Linked DNA regions of Homo sapiens: all the other regions are reported to be linked to region 1. Evidence: microRNA targets listed by miRTarBase, many of them from high-throughput screens and not tested one by one. Region 1 holds a microRNA gene; each other region holds the end of a gene's coding sequence.

The links. Region 1 holds the annotated microRNA hsa-miR-6839-3p (UUGGGUUUUCUCUUCAAUCCAG, at 2,089-2,110, opposite strand). A microRNA usually pairs through its seed, bases 2 to 8, with sites in the 3' UTR of a target mRNA and lowers its output. Matches are read on the target gene's strand: a 7mer-m8 pairs with bases 2 to 8, a 7mer-A1 pairs with bases 2 to 7 and ends in A, and an 8mer does both.
Region 2: miRTarBase lists RSRC2 as a target of hsa-miR-6839-3p. Seed matches in the 3' UTR shown: 7mer-m8 at 3,099-3,105.
Region 3: miRTarBase lists PTMA as a target of hsa-miR-6839-3p. Seed matches in the 3' UTR shown: 7mer-A1 at 3,460-3,466.

What each region holds. Positions count from the first base shown.
Region 1 is chr7:64,677,059-64,681,264 of GRCh38, reverse strand. MIR6839 (microRNA 6839) reads right to left here and starts at 2,201; the gene lies at 2,089-2,201. All of the region lies in intron 1 of ZNF107 (zinc finger protein 107), which reads right to left. It also overlaps the pseudogene BNIP3P11.
Region 2 is chr12:122,502,241-122,506,446 of GRCh38, forward strand. It overlaps RSRC2 (arginine and serine rich coiled-coil 2), which reads right to left. Exons shown (of 10, transcript NM_023012.6): 10 at 1,214-3,466. The coding sequence ends at 3,287. Among named protein-coding and RNA genes, the nearest start is that of ZCCHC8, 3.4 kb to the left of the region's middle. RefSeq lists a silencer at 1,829-2,029.
Region 3 is chr2:231,712,276-231,716,481 of GRCh38, reverse strand. PTMA (prothymosin alpha) reads right to left here. Exons shown (of 5, transcript NM_002823.5): 4 at 3,966-4,039; 5 at 2,931-3,678. The coding sequence ends at 3,631. MIR1244-1 (microRNA 1244-1) reads right to left here and starts at 3,168; the gene lies at 3,084-3,168. RefSeq lists enhancers at 129-423, 951-1,190, 752-1,281, 1,282-1,811, 1,821-1,980 and 1 more and a silencer at 1,469-1,763.

The sequences.
Region 1 (4,206 bases):
AGTGAGTGGCCCCCATATCGATCAAAAAGGGGATGGACTTACCCTCCACCTTAAGAGTTACCCGAGGTCCATGATGGTCCATGGGGCCTCCGAGGTGTTCGGGCAGTGTCATTCCTCAGCCGCCAAGCCGAGGAGATCAGAGAAGGAGTCAGCCAGGGGGCTGTGGGGTTAAGCTCCAGGAGCTCTAGGGATGGCAGCTTGAGTTGGACAGTCTGACTTCCAGTGAGGGCCTGCACAAACAGGGCATGGCTTAGGAGGAACCCCAGGCTGCAGGCATTCCTTGGCCCAGTGACTATTTTTATGGCACTTGAAGCATGGCCCTGGAGGGGCTGCTGGGCGCTGCGGTCTGGATGCCTTGAAATCCCTACAGGCCATTGGTGTGGCTGGGGTTCGTCTTACGGCGGAGGCAAGCATCTGTAATTCAGAAACACGCTGCCACCAGGTAGCCTCTTCCCTGTTACTGAACACCTTAAAGGCAAGGTTAATTAAATCCTGTTGTGGGGTTTGAGGGCCAGACTCTAATTTTTGAAGTTTTTTTCTAATGTCGGGAGCTGACTGGGTAATAAAATGCATGAGTCGGCCTTCTGGCCCCTGGCCCTTCAGGGTCTAAAGCTGGATTTATGGCCAGATGGGCCACAAACTGGGCTGGATTTTCGTCCTTGCCCTGAGTGATTTCTTTTAACTTATCATAATTGACAGCCTTATACGCAGCTTTTTGGAGTCCCTCTACTAAGCAAGTGATCATATAATCTCGCCCGGCCATACCAGGAGATCCTGTTTGATAGTTCCACTGGGGGTCCTCACGGGGGACCTCCCTGGAGACCTGGCTCAAGGCGCCAGTGGTCACCTGCATAGGACTGAGCTAGGGCCCAAACACCCTCCCATTCTTCAGGAGTGAGTGTAGAAGTGAGGATGACATTTAAGTCACTCCAGGTGAGGTTATAAGACTGAGTTAAATATTGAAATTCCTGGATATATTTAGTGGAGTCTTATGGAAAAGAACCTAAACACTGGCTGACCTGAGACAGGTCAGACAGGGAGAAAGAAACATGAACTCGGACTATCCCTTCAGCTCCAGCCACCTCTCAAAGGGGAAATAGTGGGGTGGGAGGAGGGGGATTAGAAGTGGGACCAAATTGTCAGCCAGTTCGGGTATGGGGCAGAGTAGGGACAGAAGGGATATAGGGAGGCATGGTATGGGTAGAAGGGGGACTGGGGTCTGGAGAAGGGTTGGGACCGGAGTCGGACGGGCAGGGAGGAGAAATATCGGAAGGGTCTGTGGACAAGAAGGACTCGCTGTCGCCAGAGGGTGGTAGGGGAGCAGATGGGCGGGACAGAAGGAGAATTTGAGACAAATTGCATTGGGAACAAGGGCTGGGGAGGGACCGAAGTGTAAAACATGCCTGGATGTATGGAACCTCAAACCATTTGCCCATTTTGTGACAAAAGTTGTCTAAGTCCCACAAAATAGAGAAATTGAAAGTGCCATTTTCTGGCCACTGAGAGCCACTGTCTAATTTATATTGGGGCCAGGCCATATTACAGAAGAAAATGAGATGTTTAGGTTCCAAATCAGGTGAAAGACGGAGCGGTTTTAGATTCCTAAGGACACAGTCCAAAGGACAAGGAGGAGGAATGGAGGGTGGAAGGGTGCCCATAATGAACAGCGGAGGACTGAAGAAACAGAGAGACAGGGAGAGAGAAACGAGGAGGAGAGCAACCACAAGGACCTTCAGCAGGTGTCCCCATCTGGGTTGTGCAGTGGATGAGTGGCCAAGGCACATGTCCCTGTGGTTGACCAGTCACCTAGGGAAGCCTGTCTTCCCAGAGATAATCCATGACCAATGTTAGATTTAGGAAACACAGACAGTGAGTGTCCTCTCCTCTCTAAGAAAAGGAAAGTTTGAGAAAGGATGGAGGTCTCTTACCTATCCGAAGGCAGAGGCGGGGCTTTTACAGAGCTGGTCCGAGGTACCGAGGTCGCGGGTGGGTCTCTTCAAGAAGTCGGGGGAAGGGGTTAAGGGACACGACTCCCAAAGGAGTTCCCCTATCCCGGATTTCAGCATCAAATGTGTGTTATGGCACAGTCTGGATTGAAGAGAAAACCCAAGCAGGCTTCGTGTGAGCTCGCACCCAAGTGAATAAATAGCCTCACTGCTCACACAAAGCCTGCTTGGGTCGTCTCTTCAATCCAGACTACACCATAACACAAAGTAAGGTTCCTCTTTCATCTCTGCTGCTCTCTTATCTTCTAGCCATTGAATGGGAGATCTATACTGGAATATGCCTGACAATTTCCACCAAAACATTTTGATGAACAATTGGAATATGACTTTGTTAATATAGTGGAATATATTTGAGCTTGCATCATGGCTAAGTGAAGAGCTATTATGGTTTTTGAGTGGCCACATCACCCTTATTTGTCTTGTAATAGCAGCATTCCAATTTAGTGAAATAAAAGACACTAAAATCATGCTTCCCTAATATTATCTCTATTGAATAAACTAGTAAGCATATCATACTAATATCTACTATAATAATTTGGTAGTAAATTTTCTTTCACATTGGATAAAATACCTAAGTATAAATAATTTTAGTGTACTAGTCATAATGTATGTAGGATTTTAAAATATTGTCTGTAACCATAATTCAATTAAAACACTTTATGTTTTGAAAGTATGAATAACAATACTAAAATGACTAAGGGATTCATTCAAAGTAAATATTGTGGCCTTACATTTATACTAGTGTAGAAAATACTGTTCAATTGATATGAATGCAGTTTGTCTACAAATGCTACACCTAACTATGCTAATTGTTCTGAAGTAATAAATAGAAACCAAAGAACAACTACATACTCCACTGTTCGGTTCATACACTGAACCTCGCTTTTGCAATGGAAGTATTTTAGCCTGCAAATATTAGATAATTACGTTGGATAATCCATTTTCTGTCAAAGGAATTTACTCAGCATTTTTTAGTCCTCATTATTCAGTACTGCTAAATTTAATACTATCTTTGTGCTCAACTTTTGTGTGCTCTTAAAATGAGTTTTGATTTAAACAAATCTGTGTCTACTTTAAAAGATTAAAAAATTTTAAAAAATTTGCCAAAGCAAAAACAAAGCAATAAACCTGAGGTCTCAGATAAAGACAATCCCAAATCAAGAACAATGACCAAAAATTTATTTAGCTGTTAATATAATTTATGTATCGTTCAAAACAACAAAGACAAAAATCTATGTATAATTTAAATCCTTTAAGAAAAAAGAGATTAGCAAAATATCCTCCCTTATTTTTCACATAGGAGAATAAAGCCTCTTATTTCTAATTTTTATTTTCTCCTACAACAGACAGGTCTCTGGACATGTTTTTGAACTCCTGGACATCCTTTTTTTTTTTTTTTTTTTTTTTGAGACAGAGTCTTGCTCTGTCGCCCAGGCTGGAGTGCAGTGGCTTGATCTTGGCTCACTGCAAGCCCCGCCTTGCGGGTTCACACCATTCTCCTGCCTCAGCCTCCCAAGTAGCTGGGTCTATAGGCACCCACTACCACGCCCATCTAATTTTTGTATTTTTAGTAGAGACAGGGTTTCACCGTGTTAGCCAGGATGGTCTCGATCTCCTGATCTCATGATCCGCCCGCCTCGGCCTCCCAAAGTGCTGGGATTACAGGCGTGAGCCACCACGCCTAGCCGAACTCTTGGACATCTTAATTTTGCACACTGTATGCAACTGAAAGAATGTTATCAGAAAAAAAAATAGAAGAGAGAAAGGTGTTATAAAAAAAAAAATCCGGCGAGGTGCGGTGGCTCATGCCTGTAATCCCAGCACTTTGAGAGGCCAAGGCGGGTGGATCACCTAAGGTCATGAGTTCGAGACCAGCCTGACCAACATGGCAAAACCCCGTCTCTACTAAAAATACAAAAATTTGCCAGGCATGGTGATGCATGCCTGTAATCCCAGCTACTTGGGAAGCTGAGGCAGGTGAATGGCTTGAACCTGGGAGATGGAGGTTGCAGTGAGCCAAAATCATGCCACTGCACTCCAGCCTGGGCAACAAGAGTGAAACTCCATCTCAAAAAAAAAAAAATCCATGGGTATGTTAATCCAGAAAAATGACAAGACAAATCTCAATCATTTTAGGAGGTTTTTTGCCAAAGTTAAGGAGGTGTGCCCTGGAGACAAGTCTATGTCTTTCTTCTAAGAT
Region 2 (4,206 bases), not on the chromosome of region 1:
AAAAAAAAAAAAAAAAAAAAAGGTGAAAAACACAGGAAGTTATGAATATTTAACAAACACCCTAGTCTGTGGGAGTCAGTAAAGTGAGGAAGTGAGACTTTAAGGATCGGCAAAGTTGGGGGTGGGAGGATGGAAGAGTGTCTTAGGTGTAAGGACCACCATGTTGAGTGAAAAGGCAGAGTGGAGCAAGATGAGGTTGGAACACTGCTAGGTCAGTGCTCAAAGGCCCTTAAGGAAGCCTCTTTCCGTTTACAACATTGGGAAGTCACTTACACATTTTAACATTTTTTTTTTCTTTTTGTGGACAACAGGATCTCCCTATATTGCCCAGGTAGGTCTTGAACTTCTGAGCTAAAGCTATCCTCCTGCCTCTGCCTCCCTAAATACTGGGATTACAGGAATGACCCACTGTGCCTGGCCATTTAAATTTTTTTTTTTTGAAATTTTATTTTTTGAGACAGAGTCTCACTGTGTCACCCAGGCTGGAGTGCAGTGGCATGATCTCGGCTCACTGCAACCTCCGCCTCCCAGGTTTACTTTCACTGAAAAATCTGCATGAGGCCTGGCGTGGTGGCTCACGCCTGTAATCCCAGCACTTTGGGAGGCCCAGGCGGGTGGATCATGAGGTCAGGAGTTCAAGACCAGCCTGGCCAACATGGTGTAACCCGGGAGTTCAAGACCAGCCTAGCTGACATAGTGAAACCCCGTCTCTACGAAAAATACAAAAATTAGCCGGGCGTGGTGGCGGGTGCCTGTAATTCCAATTACTCAGGAGGCTGAGGCAGGAAAATTGCTTGAACCCAGGAGACAAAGGTTGCAGTGAGCTAGGATCATGCAACTGCACTCCAGCCTGGGCAAAAGAGTCTCTCACAAAAAAAAAAAAAAGAAAAAAAGAAAAAAAAATTCTGCATGTAAGTGGACCCTAAAGTTCAAACCCATGTGTTCAAGGGACAACTGTAATTTCATCTTTTAATTATTTGCATTTGGCTACTCAAAAAAGAAATTGAAATAAAATACTTAGGCCAGGCACTGTGGCTTCACACCTGAATCCCAGGTAGCACTTTGGGAGGCTGAGATGATGCAGATCATTTGAGGCCAAGAGTGGGAGACCAGCCTGGCCAACAGCCTGAGAACCCCATCTCAGGTACATTGTCATGGGCCTTTGGTGCCAGCTACTCAGGGGAGTGAGGTGGGAAGATCACTTGGACCAATATACATATACACACATATTTTATTGGACAGTGCTGCTCTAGATGAGCAAAGTACAGGCTGTATCACTCATCATGTATGGTCAGCTCCTAAAATAACTGTAGACACACAGGAAGCTTTTGCGTCCACACTGCCTTAGAAGGTCATGAACATTTTTAATAAGATTGATTTAAAAAGGCAGAGCTTAATTGAAAAATGTTGATGATCACGAAATGAAGGATCCATAGTGTCATTTCCTTAGAAGGCTTAGATTTGTCACTGAAACACGGTGAAAAGCCATTTTGCCATAGAATTTCTGTGCTCTGGGAAAATGAAAGGTTTATTAAAGTACATTAAAAATCTTACAATCTGGCTAGGTGAAGTGGATCACACCTGTAACCCCATCACTTTGGGAGCCCTGAGGTGGGAGGATTGCTTGAGGCCAGGAATTCAAGACCAACCTGGGCAACGTAACAAGACCTTGTCTTTATAAAAAATTAAAAACAAGCTAGGTGTGTTGGTGAGCACCTGTGGTCCCAGGTACTCAAGAGGCTGAGGTGGGAGGACTGCTTGAGCCTGGGGGAGCCTGCTGCAATGCACTGCACTCCAGCCTAGGACAGAAAGCAAAAAAAAAGAAAACACCCCATTACTTCATTTTCATGTATAAAAAAAATACCTAATGAGCAAGTTGGCAAGACTTAATTCCAGCTTTTAAAATAAGGCTGTCAATCTTATTCCTGTAGTCTTCCCTGATTGTAATGTGCTCTCATTCTGTGATGTTTTCCAAAGGATTTTTCAAAGGAAAGCCAAACCTTATTACTTTGCTGTAACTGAAGTAAATTAACTTCAAGTTTTGCAGGCCCCCCCCACCCCTTGGCTCCAGATTTATGTTCAATCTAGTAACAAAACATTTTCTAGGCTGGCTGCAGTGGCTCACGCCTATAATCCCGGCACTTTGGGAGGCTGAGGAGGGTGGATCACCTGAGGTCAGGAGTTCAGGACCAGCCTGGCCAACATGGTAAAACCCCACCTCTACTAAAAATACAAAAATTAGCTGGGTGCGGTGGTACGCCTGTAATCCCAGTTACATGGGAGGTGGAGGTGGGAGAATTGCTTGAACCTGGGGGGCAGAGGCTCTGGCAGTGAGCCGAGATTGTGCCACTGCACCCAGTTTAGGCAACAGAGCAAGATCCTGTCTCAAAAAAACAAACAAAAAAAATTTCTAATATTTTAATATTTTATAGTCTATGCTGGAGAAGACTTCAAAGGGATAATGAGCAAAAAGCATGCAAAGAACTTGTTATAAGGCACTTTATTAAAATAAAAGTGCTTACATCCCTTTAATGCATTAATCTATCTCCTGAATAACACATGTAATATTTGACAAATACTGAATACCAAGTCTGTCCCTTATAATAGGAAAACATACTATTTTAGTAAGTTTTCTCCTTCCACCTTTTACATTTTTGCTCACCACGGTATTGACTGTAGTATAGTTAACTGGCCTTAAAAAGGGTGGTGGGGAGGGGATTTCTAGCTAGTGTTTTCTAACAGCAATTGCCAAATGCTACAGAAACTATAAAACAAATTCAAAGAAACATCCCAGGTAACTTAAATTAACACCAGTTTTGAGAAAACCATTTTTATTATCATTACCACCCAGCTTATCTGTGCTGGATTATGTACCAAATGGCCAGATCTTCTAAAGAACATCTACATAACATTTCTTTCATGTTTCAAGAGATGAAAATAACTGTACAAGGTTAAGTACAAAAGTACACAAGACAGCGGACACGAAAAAATCCATGTATGAGATTTTATCCCCACCTGCAGCTTTTATATATTTGAAAAGTAGAATTCATGAACTAAAAAATATTATCCTTCTATAGTCCTGTCAAGTTTAATGGAAGTGGGTTTAACCTGATTACAACACTAACACCAGTATCACTGATCTGATATTTACAAAAATTTGTATTTTTCAATAAATTAAAGTCAATGCAACACCCATGCAAGCTAGAGTGCTAGCTGTTTGGTGAACAAGGACGTGACATCAGAACAAGAAGTCTATAAGTCCCAAACTTTACAAGTGTGATCATTTTCAAACTGCATCCATTCCTCGCATTGAAGATGTGAAACCCAAACCCATTCCTCTTTGTGTGTGGGTTTGTGATCTTGCCATTTCATACTGAGCATCTAAATTTCGAAATACTTCTTCCTGCTGCTTCAGAGTCTTGTAACTTTCTTCATCAACTGAGCTACATCCAGCTTCATCTTCACTCTAAAAATCAGACATAAAACATTACAATGAATTCAGATGGAGATAAATATTCTCTCACTTGACACTATTTTTTATGTATTTTTTTTTTTTGAGATGGAGTCTTGCTCTGTTGTCCCGTCTGGAGTGCAGTGGTGCCATCTCGGCTCACTGCAACCTCTGCCTCCTGGGTTTAAGTAATTCTTATGCCTCAGCCTCCCAAATAGCTGGGATTAGAGGCACATGCCACCACGCCCAGCTAATTTTTGTATTTTCAGTAGAGACGGGGTTTCACCACATTGGTCAGGCTGGTCTCGAACTCCTGACCTCAGGGATCCCCCCTGCCGCCTGCCCCCCGGCCTCCCGAAGTGTTGGGATTACAGGTGTGAACTAGGCTGACACTATTAAATTATACTTTTGGCCGGGTGCAGTGTGGCTCACGCCTGTAATCCCAGCACTTTGGGAGGCTGAGACGGGTGGATCACCTGAGGTCAGGATTTCGAGACTAGCCTGGCCAACATGGTGAAACCCCGTCTATACTAAAAACAAAAAACAAACAAACAAAAATATACTTTTGGGATATGTATTTGATCTCAATAACTTAATTTCCATTCATTATTGAACACCTCCAAAGGACAAGGCAATGTTCTTTCTAGGTCTGGAATATAGCAGGGTGTAACAAAAGTTAACTTCAGTTTAGTAGGTTGGAAAAAACATAATATGTAGAAGATGTCAGGGTATAAATGCCACAGAGGAAAGTAAAG
Region 3 (4,206 bases), not on the chromosome of region 1:
AGGGATTCCACCCTCATGAAGCAGCTCCCACCAGGAGGGGACCACGCAGCAGCCAGCGCCCTGAGGCAGGCAGGGCTGGCCTGTATCTAGGACACAGGCATCCAACCCGCAGGCTTGGTAGAGGCAGGGTAGGCAGCAGGGCCCTGGAGGGACTGAGATCTGGGAGGAGTTAGGAAGGGCCAGAGGCTGAGGATCCTGACCCCAGGGCTTGTGATAGCAGTAGAGGAGAAGCAGTACTGATTCCTGGGGCTGTGTAGCCAACAGCCAAGATAAAGCCAGGAAGTAGAGCTGGGAGCCCCTGACTCCCCGCCCCCCATTCTAGTGACTGAGTCATTCTAGTCATTCTAGTGAACACCCCCCATTCAAACTCTCCTAGTTTGTACTCAGGGCAGCAGTCCCAGTGAGGGTGTGTGGAGTCCAGTGAAGGAGTGTGGAGTCCAGTGAGGGAGCGTGGAGTCCAGTGAGGGTCTGTAGAGTCCAGTGAGAATGTGTGGAGTCCACTGAGGATGTGTGGAGTCCAGTGAAGATGTGTGGAGTCCAGTGAGTAAGGGTGCGTGGAGTCCAGTGAGGGTGCGTGGAGTCCAGTGAGTGAGGGTGCGTGGAGTCCAGTGAGTGAGGGAGCAGGGAGTCCAGTGAGAGAGTGTGGAGTCTGCTGAGGCAGTATGGAGTCCAGTGAGTGAGGGTGCATGGAGTCCAGTGAGGGTGCATGGAGTCCAGTGAGGGTGCATGGAGTCCAGTGAGGGTGCGTGGAGTCCAGTGAGGGTGTGTGTGGCCACAGGGAAGCCCAAGACCGTGGAAGAGTGGACCCCTGCTTCCAGCTTTGGTTCCACGTAAAGGACTCAGTCCTTGGGAGAGGGCATCAGTTGCCCAGAAGGAAGGTCTGGGAAATGACCACTGACTGTCACATCTGACTGGGGTTCCAGCAACAGAGAGGGAGAAAGGTCTTGTTGCGGGAGTCAGGTGGAGGGTGACTGGCGTTGCCTACCTTGGGACCAGGGCCCACTGAAGGGTCTTTCCTGGACAGAATTCAGCGGCACGCTTTACAGTTCCTCTGTGTCCACCAGGGGGCGCCCATTCCTTGATAATCTTTTAACCTGGGCTCCAGTGGGAGGTCATTCGGGGACTTTGGGAGTGGTATCAAGGTGACTCTGGGCCCTGAGGTATATCCTCAGGCAGTGGTTAATTGTGTGCTAGGCTCAGGACTAGGGGTAAGTGTGTTCTGCTAGAACCAGCAAATGCTGTTCCAGGCCAAACCTTTGGTGGGATGAGGCAGCTCAGACAGCAGAGGCAGTAAGCTCTGCTGATATGGGTGTCTCAGGGGGACCCTAGCAAGGCAGCCCTGGGCCCTGGCTCATGCCTCATCCTATTGTTCCCATTTTGCAGAGGAGGGGATTGAAGCCCACAAGGTTCAGTTACTTGCCTCATGCTAACATGCCTGCCGTGTCTGTGTGCGGACCAGGGCACAGCTTCTCCCCTTTCAGGGGCCTTGCGGTAGTGGTCCCGAGCAGGACTGCAGCCTGAGGGAGCTGGGTTAGATCTGCTCTCAGCTCCAAGCGCTACCTGCCCTGTGTGGCCTTCCTTCACGGCCTTCGCCTGCACTCCTGCCTTAGAGACACCCTCCTGGGCGCCGAGCTTGGGAACACTGCAGTACTGAGTCGCCTTGGGCGGCAGAACAGAGAGGAGCCAGCGTTTTGGCTCCAGACCCTCCCTTTCTTCCCTGGATGAGCCAGGATGCAGATACCCAGGCTGTGCAGGGGGTGTGGGGTAGATACAGGTCAGAGGGTCCCTCCTACCAAGGCCTCAACCTGCCCCCGATCCTGGTGGCAGCTGCCTGGGGACATGCTGAACAAGCGGCCTGAGCAGCCCCATGAGAGTGACTAAGCTCCAGCCAGAGAAGGGAAAGGTCCCCCCAGAACTCTGGTGCCTGGTGTGAAACACAAAGGTCGGGGGGGCATGGAATGGGGTGGACACGGTGTCAAGGGGCAGGTAGAGGGAACTGGTCTCTCTTGCTCTCTTCAATGCACACATTTCCCTCCTTCCCAGCATCTCCCCTTAACCCAGGCCAGGCCTCTGCAGACACTTCAGTCTGCTCCTGGGAGTTTTCCTGCAGATACCACTGGATGGCTTCCTCAGGTCCTACCTGGGCAACAGGCCCACTAGCAGTGCCTATACCGGCCCCTGCCCCTGCAGCTCTCATTGGAGGATCCCAGAAGGTTCTAGGTGAGCTCTAATCCTTACCTCCACCTCTGAGGGCACGAGCTGGTGGCACTTCCTCCAGTTGGCTATCCTGACCCACTGCTCACAGCCCGTGTATGAATATCCAAACGGCACAGTAACTTCTCCAACTGTGTTCAAGGGGCAGGGTGGGCCTGCCCAACTAACCTAAGGGACCTGGAGACCAAAGGTTGGATGACTGCCAGGCTGCACCAGTGCCAAACCAAAACCCCGGCATTCTAAGAGGCCGGGGGGTACCACGTGCCACCAGCAGGGGGAGCCACGTCATGGAGCTAAACCTGTGAGGCCTGCAGAGGCAGCCACCACTTGGACGCTCATCCTGGGAGGCTTGGCAAGTTCCCTCTTGGCCTATACCACCAGCACCCTGCGCTCCACATAATGGCAGTCCCGTGTGGCCCGTTTCCAGTGTCTAGGACTGCAAACCCCCACCCCCAGGGCACCAGGGTCCCCATGTGGCACCCAGTGATGAAGTCCTCCTCCCCAGTTAAGGCTTCTTGGGGCAATCACTGACTGCCCCAGTGAGCAGCCCCCCCAGCCAACTGCAGCTCAGTCCCTGCCCACCCACCAGACTCTGCTGCCCATCACAGGACACATCCAACTGCCTCCCAAAATGTCAACCCACTGTCCCCAGGATCCTCCCCCTCCTATCCTTGTGCCCTGGAAGGTCTGAAGAAACTGAAACAGAAAAACCAGGCTTGAGACAGCTTTGTTAGAACAACTCAGCAAAATAAAATTCCTGTTTATTGTTGGACAACATTGTTTCACACATACATCAAACAGGCCAAAAAAAATAAACAGCAACTTCATAGACAAAAAAGGAAAAAAAAAGAAACCTTTTATCTTTGGCCTTTTTAACCATCTCATACAAACCAACTACTTATAGTACAGCTAAGTACATACACAAAAAAGTTACTGGAATGCTCGGAATAAGATTGTTTTTCTGTTGTCATTTTTGCTTTTTTTACAAGGTTTTTTTTCTCCTTTGAGATTATAATGAACATGGTCACACCACAAGTAAAGTCAGAAGTAGGACAGAGAACGCTCCGAAGGCTGGTTTGGTCATCCGAGATCATTAAAAATGGCTGACCCTAACAATATGTACAAAAATATAAAATGTAAATAAAAAATACAAACAAATTTCCTTTTTAAAGTACTTTTAAGAAAAAAAGCAGGGCCTTGGAAGTTTTGGTTCTTTTTTCCTCCCCTGTTGCAAATTCTCATGGTTTGGGTTGGGTGGTGGAGAGCGCGTGTCATCTGCGGGTGGCACTGCCCACGGTGGGCGGGCGGGCCTCTCTACTCGAAGGTGACCACGTTTAGATTCTGAGACGGGAAGTGGAGGGTGAATAGGTCACGGCGGCCTTTTTTTTTTTAGTTTAACTTTTCCTTTTTTGCTGTCTAGTCATCCTCGTCGGTCTTCTGCTTCTTGGTATCGACATCGTCATCCTAAGCAGAGAAAGACTGTCAAAGGCCCCTCCAACCCCAGGAGCCCTATCCAGCCCACTGCCTCAGCTCCTGCTGGCAGAGCAAGAACCAGGGACCCCCAGCTCCACAGCCCAAGGCCTCTGGGAAGTTGAGCCCAGCCCTGTTTCCTTCCTGTTCTTAAGATTCAGGACCACACAGTGGCCACCTACAAAGTCAGAAACAGTCCCTCCGCAGCTTGAGCACCTCAGCTAAAGGCAGGTGGGGAGACCCAGATGCCAAACCCCCCTTCTTCTCAAGCCAGAACCCACCTCATCATCTTCAGCTGCCCGCTTGCCCGTAGCTGACTCAGCTTCCTCATCTTCATCTCCATCCTCTTCCTCACCTGGAGAGAATCAAAGGCCAGGTAAACCACACTTCCCTCCTACTGTGGCTCCTGGGGAAATCCCGAGGAACATGTAGTGGACTGCAAGGTCCCTGCCCTGCCTCTACTGCCTGCAACTGGGCCCAATCAGGGCACCCACGCCCACTACACAGGTGGGACTCTCCAGA